Linked DNA regions of Homo sapiens: region 1 is linked to region 2. Evidence: fine-mapped expression QTL. A gene starts in region 2. The other region holds a variant in brackets. All regions are shown on one strand. Distances are between the middles of the regions.

Region 1 (9,719 bases), 39 kb after region 2:
AGGGATAAGGTCCATCTTATGGCTCCTCCTCCCACCTCTGCTGGACTCAGCCCGAGAGAGCGGGCGCCTGGTCACCAGGGCTCTCACCTCTTTAATGTTGAGGTTGGTGCAGGCACTTGTTTCATAGAAGTCCATGCCATACTCCTTCGCCAGCTGCAAGAGAAGGACATTTCTGAAAGAGAGTCAGTAAGGCAGGGGAGGGGCCCATACAACCAGGCACAGGCTTCTGCCACTGCACTCACAACCATGCTGTGTTGTGACGATTTCTCAGAGTAGATAATTTCTCAGATGGGACTGGGAGCTCCAAGAGAGGGTAGCAGAGAATGGGGGAAGATCCTCCACAAATATGCCTCTCCATTCTTCCAGCTGCCACCCCACGCCTCCCAACACACAATCATATATCAGGAGATAAAGACACCATCCATTGTGGCAGTATGGCATCCTCGTAAAAAACATGGGCTCTGGAGTCCCACAGTCCCAGACCTGAATAGCAGCACTGCCACTGATGGCTAGCTGTGTGACCTTGGACAAGTTGTACATTCTCTGTAAGCCCCAGCTTTATCTTCTGTTAAAGGAGACTGAGTGTGTCTCCCATCCATGGTTGTGGGATGATTCAGTGGGGTCGTGCACTTAAAAGCGCTTGCCTTAGCACAGTGCCACACATAGAGTGCTCAATAAATACTATCCTAGTAGGCTTTGCCTCTACTTTCAAATTGGTCAATGACCATGTCTTATATTTTATACCAAACAATCAATTTCATTTTAAGTACTAATGGAACGCTATTGACTGAAAAGGGAGAGGAAAACTCTTGAGGTCCACGGACTGAGTGGATAACTTATCTCAGAAATACCAATCTTGGCTGGGCACAGTGGCTCACGCCTGTAATCCCAGCACTTTGGGAGACTGAGGCAGGTGGATCACCTGAGGTTAGGAGTTCGAGACCGGCCTGGCCAATATGGCAAAACCCCATCTCTACTAAAAATACAAAAAAATTAGCCAGGCGTGGTGGCATGCACCTGTAATCTCAGCTACTTGGGAGGCTGAGGCAGAAGAATTGCTTGAACTCAGGAGGCAGAGGTTGCAGTGAGCCGAGATGGCGCCACTGCACTCTAGCCTGGGTGACAGAGCGAGACTCCATCTCAAAAAAAAAAAAAAAAAGAAAGAAAGAAAAAAAAAATAACCAATATTTCTTTCTGCTCTCTGGGAGGATGGTCTCCCTGCATGCTTGGACATTCCCTCAGCGTCATCCTCCTACCCTTTCTGCCCCCATGGCTTCTCCAGCTGTGGCTCTTTGTCTCCTCATTTGCCTCCCTGGCTCTTTCCTGGGTAAGAAGGACAGGAGTGGGGGAGTGTTGGGTGGGATGGGAGATCATTTCTCGACCGTAACATGGCAGCTAGGCCTGGATGCTGTCAGAGAAGAGGTTGACAACTTGAAGTCCTTCATTACTAACACGGGGATGATCTCTTAAGCAGAGGGCAATCCTGCATTTGGGGACCTGGACTTGGGAGAGTTGCTGCCTATGACGTCTTTGTTTCTGGATGGACCCCGAATCTCTGGGCTTCTGTCCTGAAACCCAGACAACAAGCCTTCCGAGGATGGCCACTCCCCCAGGGCCTTGGGGTGCTGGGGACGTGTGGGAGGACCTGCCACTGGGGAACACACCCCTAGGTCCCCACGCTCAGGACTGGCCCTGGAGGCCCAGCAGAGGACCTGGGGTGGACTTGCCTTTTCCCTCCACTTACCTGCTGCCCTTGCTCTCTTCCCACCTGCCGTTTCTGCTCCTCATCAGCCTTATTCCCAATAAGGATCTTCTGGACGCCTTCTGGTGCGTACTAGGGACAAAGGATGGGCAGAACAGCCAGTGAGTGCTGCCTGCCCCCCCAATTTTCCCTACAGAGTCTGCACTGCCTCCAGCCCACCACCAATTCCAGAGCCCTAGGGACAGGGTGGGCCGACTGGATGCAGGTGCCAGGCTCCCCCAAGTGCCATGGCTGACCTCAAGGGTATCACGGGGAGAGCTTAGGGTAGAAGACACTCTGGCTAAGACTGGTGCTTCCTTGGGTTAGACCACTGGTATCAGAGCTGGAAAGGACATTGGATGTAAGTCCAGCCCTCATTCTACAGGAACTGGGGACCCAGAGGATTCAAATGGCTTCCCAAGGCTCCACAGCTATTGTGCAGAGCCAGGACTAGATCCCAATCTTGCAACTCCACCTGGTCCCAAGATTTCAGGAAAGAAGCTGCTCACAGGGAAGACTTGGAACTAATTCATTTCCGGGAAAGACACAGCCGTGGAGGCCTGGCAGGGTATAGAGAGTGAGGGCATGGCAGCTTCGGTTTCTTCCCCATGTCTTACTCACCCAGAGGTCTTCATCCAGGGCTGTGGAAGGCAAAGCTTCCTGGAAGCATTTGCCTTCCCATCTGGCCCTCGCCTTGCCTTCCCCGGTGAGGCACCCTCTCCACACCCCGGCAGTGAGGTGGCATCTCCTACCTCATCCACGTCACTGACCCACTTCATGATGTGCTGGTAAGAGCGCTCGCTGCTAATGTCATAGACCAAAAATATCCCCTGAGAGAGAGAGAAATAGAGAGATGTGATATGCACAGAGAGAGTGCAGTCATGGGGCCAGAAGGGGCCGTGGAAACTTAAAGGTTGGGTCCCACTCTCCCATTCTCCCTGCTCAGCATCCAGAAATATCTCTTCTCTCAGACCCCACCACTGCCGCCTCCCAGGCCCATCACAGAACTCTCTACAGCAGGAAGACACCACATGCTTTGACCTGGATCTTTGACCCAGGATGGAGGGTGGAAGTCAGGGGTGAGGGCAGGGGCCTGCCTGCAGTGAGTGGGCCATGAACAATGGACGGACAAATGATCAGTGAACAGCTGAAAGACGCCCTGCGCTCCTCCAAGCAGGCGAACTGTATTTAGGGGATCCGTGGCACAGACATCTCAAATACCCAGAGCTGGGAGTGTGGGTGGCAGCTTCCCACTTTGAAACCCCCAATGTGGTGGCTTACCTGGGCCCGCCGATAGTACTGCTTTGTGATGGTCTGGTATCTCTCCTGCCCTGCAGTGTCCCTGCAGGAGAAAGCCAGTCCCTCAGAGGAGCAGGGACCATGGGAACAGACGGGGAGGGGAAGAGCAGAGCTGTCCCCTTGTAGGAAAAACTGGGGAGCTAAAGGGTGAAAAACCAGGGATGCTTGGATCCCCACAGGGATCTGCAGTCAGAGGCCTGGTCATCTGTGCTGGTGCTGACCAGGCCTGCAGGGCCTTGGCCCCTCCTGCCAACTGCCCTCCTGGCAGAAACCAGAAGCCACAGCCAGAACAGGCCTTGGACAGCTCTCTGGAATCTGGCCACTGTGGCCAGATTTGGTTGGATGGGAGTTGGCAGGGGATGCTGCTACACCCCTAGTCCCTATGGGACCTCTGAAGGCAGTGCCCATACTGCTGTGGAATTGAGAGGGAGCTCTAAACCCTGGCAAAGGCAGTGCTTCCAAGACCTCAGGCAGAGAGCCACAGCAGCACCCTCTGCTACTGTGGAAACTTCATCATGCTATCCTGAGGAACTCTCTCAGGGTCTCGCCCTAAATGATGGGGGGTGTAGCCTCCTTCCTTCCAATCTTAACATAGTGTGGCACAGCCCAAGGGCAAAGCCTAATCCTGAGATAAATTCACAATGGTTAGTGTGCCAGTTCCTTCTAATTCCTGCCCTTTGGTGCTTGTAGTCAATCCCCTAAAGTTTCTTAGAGGTTGGAGATTAAGGCTTATAGGAAGAGATGGGCTTCTGAGACTTCGCTTCCATCCATCAGAGAGGTGGCCAGTTATCCCAGGTGAAGCCTAGGAATTTTACACATGGCAGGGGCAGCTAAGGAGCAGCCAGAAGTCCTCTTCTCCTACATCTGCCTCCTCCTCCTCCCCAGCTCACCAGATCTGTATCCGCACTTTGATGCCGTCTACCTCTATGGTCTTCATCTTAAAGTCAACACCTGAAGAAAGGAAGAAAGAAAGAAAGTTAGAAAGCGTACCCACGAGAAATGAACAGGAAAGGGCCAGGCAATCACACTTGAAAGGTTTCCTTTCAGTTTAATTTGGCAAAGGGATGAAGTAATGTAAAGGCCTTCTTTAAGCAGAAACTGACCTTAAGGAAGTATCTGAAGCTTTGAAAGGGGCTTTCCTCCCTCCCTGAGCTGAAAGTTGCCACAAGTAAAGGCCCTGGGGGACCCAGAGGAGGGAGAGTGAATCTGGGGAAATCTACTTCATCACTGCCTTACTCGACAGACTTAAAACATGTCTCGTTCTAGTCATGTGTGAAGTCTTCCTATTTATACTTCTGGAGAGAACGCTGTGTTTATCCTTCCTGAAATTCTAATCTCTAGGAATAGCAACCCACATTATTTGCCTGCTTTCTTCCCTCTCTCTCTTTGCCTTGTTAATAACCAGAAGGGGTCATAGTGCCAGACTGTGGAGAGAGAGGAGGGCTCTTCCAACCCATGATTGTACCTGAAGCCTCAGCACCCAGCCAAGGCTCACCAAAAAGAAGGCCTCATGCGTCTTGGTTGCTGACTCACTCATTCACCATAGGAGGCACTGTGGTTGACTAGAAGGAGCATGGGCTTTGGTGTCAGGCCTGAGCTTATCTCCTCCCTCT[G/A]GCCACTCATAGCTCATTGCTATAACATCAGGCACCTTGCTTCACTGAGCGTCCATTTCTGCCTCAGTAAATATCTTCATCAGGGACATTACCAGTATCTCAGAGGGTTGCTGAGGAGGCCGGATGAGATACAGCACCTGGCCCAATTGACTGCAGCTGTCATGAGCTAGTGCAGGGCCGGGTACATGCGGGTGCTTATGAGTGACTGTCATAGGACCAGATGAAGAGGCAGTGGCATGGCATGGCATGTCACTGCGGGAGGGAAAGGAAGCAAAGAGTTCCCACGCTTCTTCATCCAAGGGCTGGAGGAGCTAAGCTGCCACGAGACACAAGAAACCGAAGGGATTTGGCAAATGCGTGCAGGGCAGAAACATATTGGAGAAATCTGCAGCAAGAGAAGTCAGCACCACCAGCAGCAGCCAGCTTGACTCTGAGTGACAACAGAGAGATGAGGGAGGTTGTTTTGCTGACCATGCCTCTCCCCAACTCTAACTATACCCAGGCACTATGCCCAGGGATTCAAGAGCTACGTCTGGTGGGTTAATTAAGCTTACGTCTTTGTGTACTCCCTGGAGCAAGGTCAGGAGTGGGCATGATCAGCCACAGTTTTCAGATGGGAACATGGTAGAGTTCCGAACCGTCTGCCACCAGCTGCACTGCCCGGCCCAGAAGGCCTGAAGGCACCAGCATCCCCATCACCACTGCCACTCCACCTCCGCATCAGTTATTTGCCAAATGGGAGACATCTTCCCTTATCTGTGCTGTCCCCAGCTTTCTACAAAGGCAAACAAATTAAATTCTGTCTCTTCCTTCCCACCATCAAGACCAATCATCATTTAATTACAAGGGAAAAAAGATGCAGAACGGGCAACCTGAACTAAATCGATTTGGTCAGACGTGAATCATTTCTCGCCTGCCCAAGCTGATTCATATCCATTGAGCTGTACTTTTCCAAATGGGCAATGCCTGGCAGCCATTCTTCCATGTGTGCAGAGAAAGAGTGAAGAGAAGGAGGGAGGAAGGGAGGAAGGAGAGAAGCATCAGGCCTTGGGAAGCAGGAGTATGCTTATTTCTGCCTGGATCAACGGTTATCAGGCACCTGTTTCTCCCCAGTACCTGGCATAGAAGGGAATCAAGACATTCTTGTTTCATGATACAGCACCTTCTTCCAAGAAGAACGAGAAATTTTCTCCAATTTGTAATATACCTGGTTTATCCTCACACTAGCCTAGCAAACCTGGCCAAGGACAGTGCCTTGTGCAAAGCCATCACAAGGGGGACAGGAAGAGAGAAGGTTTTATTTCCTTTATCCCACAAACATTTATGGGAACTTCCTATGTGCCCTGCACAGTGCTCAGTGCAGACAGAGCAGTGAAAAAGACATGGCCCCTGCCCTCAGAGAGCCTAGTGGAAAGGAAACAAGGGCTCAGAGAGGTCAATGGCTAGCCAGGGTCAGCACAGCACGTGCAGAGATTCCAACACAGGTCCATCTATGCTGGAACCCACGCTGCCCCTTGCGCTGGTTCTTAGGGAAGCAAGAGGAGAGTCGTGTAGTTGGCTAGGCCTGGAAGCCCTAACTCTGCTTAGTTTCCTTTTTGCCTGTGGGTGCCTGAGAAGGACTTTGCTAGGAGAGGAACTTCCAATATTAAGGTGAATTTTTCCCTGTGAGAGAAGAGGGGATGGAGGGAGAGGTGAAAGCAGGCAACTGTCCCCAGAGACAGAACTGACAAGGAGACAGGGTACTCCACCGGAAGTGAGGCTGGGCAGTGACTCCTTCTCACCTCCTCCCTCACTTCTTAGCTATGTGGCGGGGGACTAAGGCTGAGGAATTCCGGGGCTCGCAGCACTCCCCGGCCTCACACACACCCCACCATCTTGCAACCTAGGTCTCACTGGCCACCTGGGAACATGTGTTTTATTCACCTTTTGGCTATTCATATGCATTCACATATGATGGAAGAAACAGAGTAAGTCTATGTCTTCTGAAGGATTTTCCTTCCTCCCTCCCCGCCCACACAACCTCTCTTAAATTTAAAAAAGGTTAACAGCCCAAGGATCTTCAAGAGGAATCTATTGCTTCTGCGCTCTGTTCCCACACAACCTGGGCCTTCAGCTGTGTCCACCTACCAGTCAAGCCCTGGCCCCAGTAACCCGTGCCCATCGTGGCTCCTTCCCTCTCCCTGCGTGGCTGTTGGTTTTTTCCACTGCTGAGCACTGCAGGACAAAGTCAACACACTGGCCTTATTGAGGCCTCTGCAGACGGATGCTTTCTCACCTTGGCCAGCCCTCGCAGCTGCTTAGCAAACTGTTTATTCACATGTGTGTTCACCTATCACTGTCCCCCCACTGAAGACTTCAGCTCCAGGGCACCCCCTCCCCACCCCTGTGCTCTCAGCAGGATACCTTCTCCACTGTTTTATGGCCCAGATGAATGCCTTTCCTCTGAAGCCACCTCCTTTCTTCAGATTTTCCTAAGTTCTCTCTGCCTTCCCTCAGGGAAGAGTCCTCTGTCCACATCTGGCCTCTTTTCGGTCATCAGCCCCACCTGGGTGCACACCCAGAGAGTCAGCCCTTTTTGTTGCATCTTTAGTATCCGTGAGAAGAAGAGATATTCTCCATCTATCTCTGCCTCCAGTGGTTTCACATTCCGGCTCCTCTAAGGTCATATTTCTCAAACTTCCAGGTGCATGAGAATCACGCGGGGATTGAGTTAAAATGCAGATTCTGATCTGGTAGGTGTAGGGCAAGGCCTGAGATGCTGCAGGAAGCTCCCAGGTGAAGATGACGCTACTGTCCACATATCGCCTGAGTAACAAGCTGTTCTCAAAGTGTGTCCCTGGACCCACAGCATCAGCATCACCTGGGACTTGTTAGAAATGCAAATTCTGGCCGCACGCGGTGGCTCACACCAGTAATCCCAAGACCTTGGGAGGCTGAGGTGAGTGGATCACCTGAGGTCAGGAGTTTGAGACCAGCCTGGCCAACATGGTGAAACCCCCGTCTCTACTAAAAATACAAACGTTAGCTAGTCATGGTGGCGGGCACCTGTAATCCCAGCTACTCAGGAGCGGGTCTGGGGTGTGGGGAGAATCGCTTTAACCCAGGAGGCAGAGGCTGCAGTGAGCTGAGATCATGCCACTGCACTCCAGTCTGGGCGACAGGGTGAGACTTCATCTCAAAAAAAAAAAAAAAGAAAAGAAAGGAAAAGAAAACGAAATGCAAATATGCAAATTCTTGGGCCTTACCTCAGACCTATAGAATCAGGCCCTCTAGGTATGGGGTCCCGCAATCAGTTTCAATAAGCTCTCACAGTGATTCTCACACATGCGTAAGTTTGAGAACGACATTAGGACAAAAGTTTTGCACCTGAAGTGTCAAGAGAGCGAGAGCACAAGAGTTCTCTGTTTCTCAAGGTGTGCTTTGCAGAGCTTCGGCTTTAGAATCACCTGGGGTGACTTAAAACAAAGACAAAAACAATGACCTTGACGTGCCTAGACCTACTGAATCATAATTTGAGGGTGAGGCCCAGAAATCTGTATTTTTAACAGCACTGTGGGTGATATTAGATAGAAGTAGTTTCAAGAGCTATATATGTCATGGAAGAAACATCCATTGGCCTGGAGTCAGAAAGACCTGGTCCAAGTCCTGGTTCTGGCACTTACTGTGTAACTTCAGGCAAGTCTCAACTTCTCCTAGCTTCAATTTTTTTTTTTTTTTGGGATGGAGTCTCACTCTGTTGCCAGGGATGGAGTGTAGTGGAGCAATCATAGCTCACTGCAGCCTCGATCCTCCAGGACTCAAGCAATCCTCCCAGCTCAGCCTCTGGGTAGGTAGCTGGGACTGCAAGTGTGCACCACCATGCCCAGCTAATTTTTTTTTTTTTTGTAGAGATGAGGTCTCCCTGTATTGCCTAGACTAGTCTTGAACTCCTGGGCTCCAGCGATCCTCCCGCCTCAGCTTCCCACAGTGCTGGGATTATAGGCATGAGCCTCCGCACCAGGCCGATTTTCTTAAGTGTAGAAGGAGAATACTGCTTCCCTCCTAAGGGCTGTGCTGGGATAAATTAAACGATGTATGTGAAGCACTGACAGCGTAGTCCTCTCACTCCTACCTTCCCTCTGCTGAATAAAGGCTTCCTGGGGAGTCAGGAAAACCAGCCCAGAGAACCCTGAAGTGGAAGGCATTACAGAGTCCTGGCCCCTACTAACCAGGTACCCTTGCCAGCCAAGGGACTAGAGCATCAGCAGCATCAGAGGTGTGTGAGAAATGCACATTCTCAGGACTCGCCCAGCCCTACTCACTCTTCTGCACAAGAAAGTTTCAGAACCACACCCAGGTGCATAGTGCTTGTCTTTACAGCATACCCCTGAGCTATGGAATCCCTCAGCTCTTATGCGGGTCCCATGAAGTAGGCAGGAGTAGGTATTATTGTGAGCCACAGGGAAGCCAATTCTCATGTTCCCACTGACTCATGTTCCCACATCCCACAGCTGAGCTGGACTGGAAAGCTGGTGTCTTAAAACCCACCCAGGGTATGCTTCACTCGGCCAGAGGCTTCCCAACCCTGGGAGGCTGAGGAATCTTACCACCTTTTCCCACATGCCCTGGCATACCCGATGCCTTTTCCCACACACCCTGGCATACCCGATGCCTTTTCCCACACGCCCTGGCATACCCGATGCCTTTTCCCGCACACCCTGGCATACCTGATGCCTTTTCTCTTTTTTCTTGACGGAGTCTTCCTCTGTCGCCCAGGCTGGAGTGCAGTGGCACGATCTCAGGTCACTGCAACCTCTGCCTCCTGGGTTCAAGCGATTCTCCTGCCTCAGCCTCCCAAGTAGCTGGGATTACAGGCACGTGCCACCACACCCAGCTAATTTTTTGTATTTTTAGTAGAGACGGGGTTTCACTGACATTATGCGGCATCTAGAAGTGAGGCAGGGGGCACATGAGGAGAAGCCCGCTGCTGTGGTCTGAAGGTCTGTGTTCCTCCAAAATTCCCATATTGAAACTTAATCCCCAGTGCAGTGCTGGTGGGAGGTGAGGGCTTTGGGAGGTGACTCAGT
Region 2 (10,445 bases):
ATAGGGGAAGTAGCCTGAAGTTGGGCAGGAGAACCCTAAAGGGAAGAAAGTCTAACTCTCCCATTGAGCTAAGAAAAAAACCTGCTGACCCTGAACTTCTAGGAGTGCTTTTGTACCTGTCCTCAGCCAGGCTCACCTGTATTCACTGGGTTAACCCAGAAATGCTGCTAATTCATTCATATCAGGCAGGTGACATCAGGTGATGACAACCACAGACTCTTATTTCACACTTTCCCTGAAACAATGGAAAGAATGACCTATACCTTCACCAAGCAGATGAGCTTCCTCTACTCCATCTGTGAAATGGGTCTGAGGATACTACCATAAAGGCTGGGGCACTTATTTGCTCCTTTCAACAAAAGATGAAAATAATAGATATGATCAGCATTGTGTCATCACTTCAGACTCTTGGCTTAAGACAGCATAAGACAAAAGAAAAAATAGAAAGAAGGTGTTAAAAGGAGAGTCAAACTGCACTCTTTAGGGAAAATTTTCATCTTACCACAGGGATGTAGTTTAGCACATGTAACTGAGCCAGCAATTAGGGCCATTTTAACATTTAGATTTTCTTTAATCAATTCCTTTTACAAGAGGTGATCTCATACGTAAACTGCAACATGGTTTGTTTGATATATCTCATGGACATCACATATTTATTAGAGACCCATAGGGGCAGGGTATTTCCCCAGAGAAAATTCTATTAGAAGATAAAATTGATTTTGCAAATTTTATTTTATATAGTTACCTATAAGAGAAAATATTTTTCTGTTTATTGTTTTTCTTATGTTACATCACTACTTGTTCATTTCATTCAGGTGCTAATCTTCTGCTTTGTAGCCTCTATTTTCCTTTCTCCCATCTGTCAACCTCAGATACTTTTATATTCCCATTACCACAGTCACACTTTAATTTCTGGTCCTGGCTACCTCTTCCCCCAAGTCTCATTTCCTGCCTCTCTTCTCTGAATGTGGCTAGATTTAAATGGAGGACTTCATTGGATAGATAGCCCTGAGCTCTTGAGCTTTTGTGACCATAAATATGACAACTTTTTTTTTTTTTTTTTGAGATGGAGTCTAGCTCTGTCGCCCAGGCTGGAGTGCAATGGCACGATCTCGGCTCACTGCAACCTCTGACTCCCAGGTTCAAGCGTTGCTCCTGCCTCAGCCTCCTGAGTAGCTGGGATTACAGGCATGCGCCACCATGCCCAGCTAATTTTTGTATTTTTAGTGGAGACAGGGTTTCACCATGTTAGCCAGGAGGGTCTCGATCTCCTGACATCATGATCCACCCGCCTCAGCCTCCCAAAGTGCTGGGATTACAAGCATGAGCCACCATACCCGGCCGACCTTTTTTTTTTTTTATCTTGCTCATTTTAATAACAAGTTATGATATAACTCTGGGAAGGTAAAAAAATTTCATAAATATGTAGATTGTCTTTCATGCCTTAGAATATGAAATCAATTCATGCTAATGGGTGTACTCTTTAAGATCTATGACTTTAGTGTAATTTTTAATTAATTTATTTTTGTTGTGTATATTCTCAGTGATGAGGCAGAAAGCTATACATCTCCCCCTTGTGGTTCCTGCTAACGTCTGCCTTTGGCATGTCCATTTTTTTCCCAGTTCCAGTAAGTCCCAATAAAATGCAGCTAAAATAATCTTTTTTATTTATTTATTTTTTAGGGACAGAGTCTCACTCTGTTGCCCAGGCGGGGGTGCAAGCAGCATGATCATAGCTCATTACAGCCTCAAACTCCTAGGCTCAAGAGATCTTCCCATCTCAGCCTCCTGAGTAGCTAGGACTGCAGGTGCACACCACCACACTAGGCTAATTTAAAAATTTTTTGAGGTCATCACTATGTTGCCCAAGCTGGTCTTGAACTCCTGGCTTCAAGCTACCCTCCTGCCTTGGCGTCCCAAAAGTGCTGGGATTACAGGTGTGAGCCACCACACCCAGCCTAAAATAATTTTAAACCACAACTCTGGCAACACTCTCCTGCTCAAACCTTCAGTTGCTCCCTACCACATGCAGAATAAAATCCAAACTCCTTGGCATGGTTCACCTGAAATTTCTATACAAAACAAAACAAAACTCTGCTTTTTGAAATTCTAAACATGCTTTAAGGCCCAAATTCCTCTTTCCTAATCCTCCCCCTGGGTGTAGTCTCATCATTTTGTGTTCTTATACCCCAATCTGCCAGTAATTATTAGTATTTGTGCTCATTTTATCTCTCAGACTAAATTGTAGCTGGGGAGTAGCAAAGGATTAAAAGTCAGTATTAGGCTTTAAAAACAGAGAAACCATTTAAAAATGGATGAAGAGAAAGAATTGGGCCAGGTGCAGTGGCTCACACCTGTAATCCCAGCACTTTGGAAGGCCGAGGCAGGTGGATCACTTGAGACCAGGAGTTCGAGACCACCCTGGCCAACATGGTGAAACCTCATCTCTACTAAAACTACAAAAAATTAGCCGGTTGTGGTGGTGTGCCCCGGTAGTCCCAGCTACTTGGGAGGCTGAGGCATGAGAATCGCTTGAACCTGGGAGGCAGAGGTTGCAGTGAGCCGAGACTATGCCAGTGCACTCCAGCCGAGGTGACACAGTGAGACTGCCTTAAAAGAGAGAGAGAGAAGAAAAAAAGACTAGCCCTGTCCAATAGGAATATGAGAGCTACATGTGTAATTTTTAATTTTCTAGTAGTCACATTAAAAAAGCAGGTGAAATTAATTTAATAATACATTTTTATTTAACCCAGTACGTCAAAAATTATTTCAACGTAATCATATAAATTTATTAATGAGATTCTTATATATTTTAATACTAAATCTTCCAAATCTGGTGTGCAGAATGTACTCACAGCACAATCTCAGTTCAACTTGCCATATTTAAAGTGCTTTATAGCCATAAGTGGCTAGTGCTACTGTATTAGAAAGAAATTGAGATAAGGATAGCAACAGAGTCCTAGCCCTGGCTGACTACTGAGTAGCTTTGTTACCATAGACAAGACCTTTAACCACTCACTTCTGTGGTTTCCTTATCTGAAAAGAGGAGACATATTTTTCTTACCAACCACATAGGATTGTAATAGCATAAAATTAGAAACTGAAATGAGGACACTTTTGAAAGGTTGAAAATGTCATACAAATGGGAGGTATTATAATTATTCTAAGAATAAGGTAAACTCTGATGGCTCTAGTTCTTGCAGTGTTTCTTAGCACACCTATGATTTTTAATAACAGTTGCAGATACTTACTAGAAGTTGAAATACTAAAGGTTACAACTTCAGTGCTTCCGTGGAAAAATAATTCCCATATTAGCAAACCCATTTAAACTGGTGTGCTTTGAAATGGTTATTAATCTCTTCTTTAAGGAATCTGGATCCCAGAGTCTCCCAGGCTCCCCAATCTTTCTTCCCTGACATGACAGCAATAAAGCAGGGCTGAGGGAGGATGTTGATGTTCCCATTGGGGTAGAGGAGTGTGATAAAGACGCATTGTTCAGAAACAGAGACAAACTTCGGAGATTCGTCTGCAAGTTAATTAGGTCGTTGCGAATAAATAAGATGCTTTCAATACAGAGAGAAAGGATGAGGCGGGGCAACAAGCACAAGCATTTTGAGACCCACAGGATTGGGAAATGATGCAGGAACAACTGACCTGGCCATTTTTCTTTCTTTCTTTCTTTTCTTGGAAGCACATATGTTTATTGGTTTTTTAATCTGTGAACCAATAGGTCATTTATAAATGGATGTGCAAATCTGAAATCAAAATATCTGCAGTCAATTCAATTAGATAATTTTTGAAATCTATTTATTTTTAATATACTTTAAGTTCTAGGGTACATGTGCACAACGTGCAGATTTGTTACCTATGTATAGATATGCCATGTTGGTGTGCTGCACACATTAACTCGTCATTTACATTAAGTATATCTCCTAATGCTATCCCTCCCCCCTCCCCCCACCCCACGACAGGCCCCGGTGTGTGGTGTTCCCCACCCTGTGTCCAAGTGTTCTCATTGTTCAATTCCCACCTATGAGTGAGAACATGCGGTGTTTGGTTTTCTGTCCTTGCGATAGTTTGCTCAGAATGACGGTTTCCAGCTTCATCCGTGTCCCTACAAAGGACATGAACTCATCCTTTTTTATGGCTGCATAGTATTCCATGGTATATATGTGCCACATTTTCTTAATCCAGTCTATCATTGATGGACATTTGCATTGGTTCCAAGTCTTTGGTATTCTGAATAGTGCCACAATAAACATACATGTGCATGTGTCTTTATAGCAGCATGATTTATAATCCTTTGGGTATATACCCAGTAATGGGATGGCTGATGACCTGGCCATTTTTCTATTTACATAGTGCTTGCCCGCCACTGAGGTGCTTCTGTGACACCTGAGAGAGATAGAAATACGTTCCTCGTTGCTATGTCCTCCAGAGGACTCTGGAATGACCAATTATTACTAATATTTTAAGTGTTTTTTTAGGAGATTTTCTGCAGCACTCTGAGTGTCTCTTCCCAAACACTTCGGTTACTGTTTATTCACCTGCTGAGATCTGGTCTCTTATTCACTCTCATTGCCTTAAGAAATGGTACAGAAATGTATTCATTAACATTTCAGATTTGTATATGCGGTAGCGAGAAATAATTCCCTTTCTTGTGTGTCGTGATTTGCCTTTCTTGTCAGCCTAAGCTCAGGAAGGTGTCTGTGAGAACTTCGCTCAGCCCAAGATCCCTTTCCCTTCCCGTCACATCTGTTAGCGCACAAGATTTCTTCGTCTGTCTCCAAAGGTTTCTGAAGCCCCACCCTTTGCCCACGCACGGTGCCAAGGAGACTGTGCCCTGCCTTGACAACAGTTGCTAAGGGGCGGAGACTTCGGCTCGGTTCCCGAGACGGAATACCCAGGAGTCGAGTACTTGGGCGCATGCGGCAACCGTATCTCAGTTCTCGCGAGGTTTCGTCTTCCCGGAAGCGTTGGAGGACATTCCCTGTTGACTGCGTCGCGATGTGTGGCGACTGTGTGGAGAAGGAATATCCCAACCGGGTGAGCGACTGGGCGCTCCCTTGGCCCGCGGGCGGCCCCCGAGGTGTCTCATATCCAAGGCTGGCCTTCCCAGAGAGGCCGTACGTGGGGCGGACTCGGCCGCACTGCCGGTCCCGGTGACCCAGTAGCGGTATTTAGGCACACCAGGGATGGCCTGTGGCGGTCTGCACCTCTGGTACCCGCCCTGGCGGCTGACCTCAGTTGTAGTGGCCGTTCTCTTGAGCTCCAAGGAGCAACAGAGGAACCCCACCACCACCACAACCCCCGTCGACAACCGAGGGACTCCCCCACCCCCACTTCCGGTCTCATCCTCAAGCTCGATTTGATGAAGTACAATTTTCTTACCGAATTCTAGCGCTGGAGGGGACCTCTGTGGTCATCTGTTCTAACACTTTTGCAGATGAAGAAACCGATGCCCAGAGAGGGGAAATCACTTGCCCAAGTTCACATTCTAGTTGCATGGATGAGAGCCAGGACTAGAATTTAGGTTTCCTGCCTGTTACCGCCTTCTGAATCTCAGTTACTTTCAGGTTCAGGAGTTTGCAAAGCTTGTCTATTCTCATTCATTCAAGGCATCCTTGTTGAACATTTATATATGTGTAGTTAGATTACTTTGCTAGGCCAGAAAGGGATTATTTCTCCTCTCTTTGAGACAGGGTGCTGCTGTTGCCCAGGCTGGTCTCAAATTCCTGGGATCAAGTGATCCTCCCGCCTTGGCCTCCGAAAGTGCTGGGATTACTGGCATGAGCCACCACGTCCAGCTGGATTATTTGTTTCAGAGAAGAAATTAAAAGGCACCTTTGGTGCTGCCTAACAGCTTACAGTTTTGGGGAGTATGTGACTAACAAAAAATGAGTAGCTCAGTTCAGAAATGCTATTCAAGTTTAGGGAAAGGGGAGGGCAATAGGGGATAGTGCTGTTCTCCCCTGAGAAAAGGTGGACATCATCTAAGACTTGAAGGACAGTTGTAATTAGGGTAGAAAAGAAGGTGAGGAGCTGGAGGATGGGGGAAAATTACAGAAATGGAATTTGTGCATTGGTTGGGAAGGAGGGAGAAAGTCTCTGTAGTTCCTTATGTCTTAGTATCTTATGGGTAATACTTAGGCTTTTGAGTAGCATGTATAACAGTATGAATTCTCCTGTAGTACAACTACTTTGAAAAAGCGGGTGAGCCTTATAAAATACAGACATGACCCAGTGATTCCCATTCTAGAAAAATGCATGTGTATATGCTTCTGAAGACTTTTATAAATAAGTGTTCATAACAGCATTATTTTTGTAGTAGATTGGAAAAGTAACTGATACATTCATTAGAATGGAACACCATTAATGAATGAGGAATGGAAGTGAATGAATTAGAGCAGTAGTTCTCTACCAGGAGTGATTTTTGGCTCTTAGGAGACATTTGGCAATATCCAGAGACATTTTTTGGGTGTCAAAAGGGGAAGTACTACTGACTGCTAATGGGTGATGCAAGGGATGCCGCTAAACATCCAGCAATACATGGGACAGCCACCACAACAAAGTATCACTCCCAATGTCAATAGTGTGGAGGTAGAGAAACCCTGAATTATAGCCGTGAAACCAAACTAGAATTACACAGCAGCCTGAAAAGTCTTACAAATAGTGTTGATGAAAGAACACATAAAGTATAATTCAAAAAGAGGCAAACCAAAATATATTATTCAAGGATGTACCTGGGTGGTAAAACTGTAAGGAACGTATACAATTACTGTTAAGTCGAGATAGTGGTTACTCCTAAGGGATTAGGGTGTGATCAAGAAGGGTCACATGAGAAAAAGTCTTCCCGGGTGCAAGCAGTGTTTTATTTCTTGATTTGGGTGGTGGTTCTACAGATGTACACTTTATAATCATTTCTTGTTCGCTACATTTATGTTTCATGTACTTTACTATGTACTATTTCATTTTTTTAAAGTTTAAAAAGATTTTTATGAAACCAGTAATAAACATGAGCTATTATGAGACCATGAGGGAGGAGTTTGCAGTAGAGAATATTAAAGAGATTAGGTTGGATTCTTTTTTGTTGTTGTTTTTGTTTTTGAGATGGAGTCTTGCTCTGTCGCCCAGGTTGGAGTGCAGTGGCATGATCTCGGCTCACTGCAAGCTCCGCCTCACTGGTTCATGCCATTCTCCTGCCTCAGCCTCCCGAGTAGCTCGGACTGCAGGTGCCCACCACCATGCCCAGCTAATTTTTTTGTATTTTTAGTAGAGACAGGGTTTCGCCTTGTTAGCCAGGATGGTCTCGATCTCCTGACCTCGTGATCCACCTGCCTCGGCCTCCCAAAGTGCTAGGATTACAGGCGTGAGCCACCGCGCCGGGCCTTAGGTTGGATTCTTAAGAGTGGAGTTATTGTAAAACTTAAAAGTCATATTGAGAAGTTTAGAGTTTACATTTTAGGCATTGGGCCACCATCAAAATTTTAATAGAGAAATGATTCTGAAATCTGTTATTTAGGAAAATGAATCTTATGGCTGAATGTTGAAATGGTGGGGTAGAGGGTGTGTAAAGACAGAACTCCACAGGGCATTTGAGGAGCCATGGCAACAGTGGTGTAGGCATGAGATAATGAAGACCTTATTTCAAAGAAAGAATTAGGTTGGGCACGGTTCTCACACCTGTAATCCCAGCACTTTGGGAGGCCAAGGCAGGTGGATCACTTGAGCCCAGGAGTTTGAGACCAGTCTCAAACATGGCAAAACCCTGTCTCTACAAAAAATACAAATAGTCTGGGCACGGTGGCTCACGCCTATAATCCCAGCACTTTGGGAGGCCAAGGCTGGCAGATCACCTGAGGTCAGGAGTTCGAGACCAGCTTGGCCAACATGGCGAAACCCCGTCTCTACTAAAAATACAAAAATTAGCTGGGTGTGGTGGGAGGCGCCTGTAATCCCAGCTACTTGGGAGGCTGAGGCGGTAGAATCGCTTGAACCTGGGAGGCAGAGGTTGCAGTGAGCCGAGATCACACCACTGCTCTCCACCATGGGTGACAAGAGCAAAACTCCGTCTCAAAACAAATAAACAAACAAAAAAAAACCACCACAAATATTAGCCAAGCGTGGTGGCATGCACCTGTAGTCCTAGCTACTTGGAGGTTGAGGTGGGAGGTTGCAGTGAGCCATGATCGTGCCATTGCACTCCAGCCTGGGCAACAGAGCGAGACCCTGTTGAAAAAAAAAAGAATTAACAAGATTCAACCTGTTTAATGTAGAAGTGAATAAGGGGAGACCTATACATGATCACATGATCTCAGGATTTTCAATCTAGGCAACTGGGATGTTGGAAGTATCATTACAGAAATTGGAGGCATATGGGAAGAAAAAACAAAATTGGGGACAAATGGTCAAATTGTTATTAATATCATGCTTCACCTGAGGTTGAGAATATCCGAAGGGTCAAGTGAAGATATAAGACTGCAGTTTGGGTACAACTATGTAGATAGATGAGTCAGTCAAATACAAGTGTCAAAATAGGATTTGTTCTCTGAGGAAAAAAATGTAGAGAATCAAGGACTGAGCTCCAAAGACTAAATTAACTTCAGAAATGAAAATAAAGTATAAGGAAGAATAGTAGAAAAAGGGATCGAGGTGATTGGAAAACCAGGAGAGTGCCTTTCAAAGGCACTTTTCTCTGATTTTATTCTGTTCTAAAATAATTAAAAGACTGTCATGAAGAAGAATTAAACTTTTCTTTGGAATTTTAGAAGGCAGATTTAGAAATAATTAGTGGGTGGATGTTACGGGTCTTAGACTTTGAATCAGAATAAAGAACATTCTGACATTTCAAAATGGAATGAGTAACTCTTAAAGGAATTAAGCTCTCTTCCTATTGTTCAGTAGAGACTAACTGACCATTTGGAATGTCAAGGATCCTTCCAACTCTGGGGTTCTTTGAAGTCATGACCTATTTTTAAGTGCAGTAAGAGCAGAAGCCCACTGCTTTGCTCAGCTTTGCAGAAGCTTAGCAAAGGGAAGGGTAATAAGAAGATGGTGGGCCGGGCCTAGTGGCTCACACGTGTAATCCTAACACTTTGGGAAGCCGAGGCACAAGGATGGCTTGAACCCAGGAGTTTGAGACCAGCCTGGGCTACATAGTGAGACCCCATCCTTATTAAAAATTAAAAAACATTAGCCAGGCGTGGTGGTGTGTGCCTATAGTTCCACCTACTTGGGAAGAGGCTAAGGCAGGAGGATTCCCTCAACCCAGGAGTTCGAGGCTCCAGTGAGCTAAGATCACACCACTGCACTCCAGCCTGAGCAACAGAGCAAAACCCTGTCTACTTAAAAAAACAAACAAACAAAAAATCATTTGTTGGGAAGCTCTAAGTGTAGAATGAGTAAGTAATAGTTAATTATTTATCTTCGATTACATAAAGTTGTTTGGAGTTTTGTCATTTATTTTTACAGACTAGAAATATATAGTACTGAATTCTTAATGGGGCTCTGGCCTACTTGCTTATACTGTTAACACTGAGAATTTGAATTCAAACATGAGTCAAGTTGGAATGAACCATACTAATTTTCTGAACCCAAATGTTTTTTAACTCAATGGTGAACCACATTTTTTTTTTCCTTCAGAAAAGCATTTAGCAAACCAGTCAGAACTAGAACTCTACTACATTTTCTAAAATTACTGAACAGGCACAAAATTGTAATCAAATATTTTTCATATCAAACTGGAAATGAAACATTTCATATATTTTAATTTCAGCTTGAAATTTTGTTAGTAATGCAACAGGAATACAGAAATACATTATGAATCAGTGGGAAAAAATCAATGTTAGTGATATGTTTAAAATTACTTGTTTTGTATTTGTCATTTAAAGCTAAGCTACCAAACTTCATATATTCAAGTTGTTGCTTAGTAGATAACATTGAACCAGATTTAATTAAATGCTGAGTAATATATAATTAGCAAAACAGTTGTATGTAAGAGTGCCTTAAAATGATACTCTGCATCTTAAAATTTATAGTTATAAGTGCCTATATTTAAAAAGTATACTTTTCAATCAATTACCTAACCTTCCACTTAAGACAATGGAAAAATGGGCCAGGTATGGTGGCTCACGCCTGTAATCCCAGGACCTTCGGAGGCCGAGGCTAGCAGATCACTGGAGGTCAGGAGTTTGAGACCAGCCTGGCCAACATGGTGAAACCCTGTTTCTACCAAACAATGCAAAAATTAGCCTGGCATGGTTTTGTGTGCCTGTAGTCCCACCTACTTGGGAGGCTGAAGTGAGACAATCACTTGAACCCAGGAGGCGGAGGTTGCAGTGAGCCAAGATTGCGCCACAGCATTCCAGCCTGGGTGACAGAGTGAGACCATGTCTCAAAAAGAAAAAAAAAGAAAAAGACAATGGAAAAAAAAGAGCAAACTAAAC

What was found. PIP is the estimated chance that this variant, and not a neighbour inherited with it, causes the effect.
Region 1: its variant is the best candidate, but not a certain one, in a credible set for the expression of CHURC1 in whole blood (INTERVAL, PIP 0.65).

The regions. Positions count from the first base shown.
Region 1 is chr14:64,948,581-64,958,299 of GRCh38, forward strand. The region is part of intron 3 of CHURC1-FNTB (CHURC1-FNTB readthrough); the gene reads left to right. It overlaps RAB15 (RAB15, member RAS oncogene family), which reads right to left. Exons shown (of 7, transcript NM_001308154.2): 2 at 3,931-3,991; 3 at 3,023-3,083; 4 at 2,494-2,571; 5 at 1,745-1,834; 6 at 88-153. Among named protein-coding and RNA genes, the nearest start is that of GPX2, 11 kb to the left of the region's middle. RefSeq lists an enhancer at 6,313-7,190. The variant G/A (reference allele first, on the strand shown) is at 4,654.
Region 2 is chr14:64,909,489-64,919,933 of GRCh38, forward strand. It overlaps CHURC1 (churchill domain containing 1), which reads left to right and starts at 4,967. Exons shown (of 4, transcript NM_001386928.1): 1 at 4,967-5,046. The coding sequence starts at 5,008. CHURC1-FNTB (CHURC1-FNTB readthrough) reads left to right here and starts at 4,873. Exons shown (of 14, transcript NM_001202559.1): 1 at 4,873-5,046. The coding sequence starts at 4,927. It also overlaps the pseudogene RPPH1-2P. RefSeq lists enhancers at 4,767-4,816, 4,967-5,236.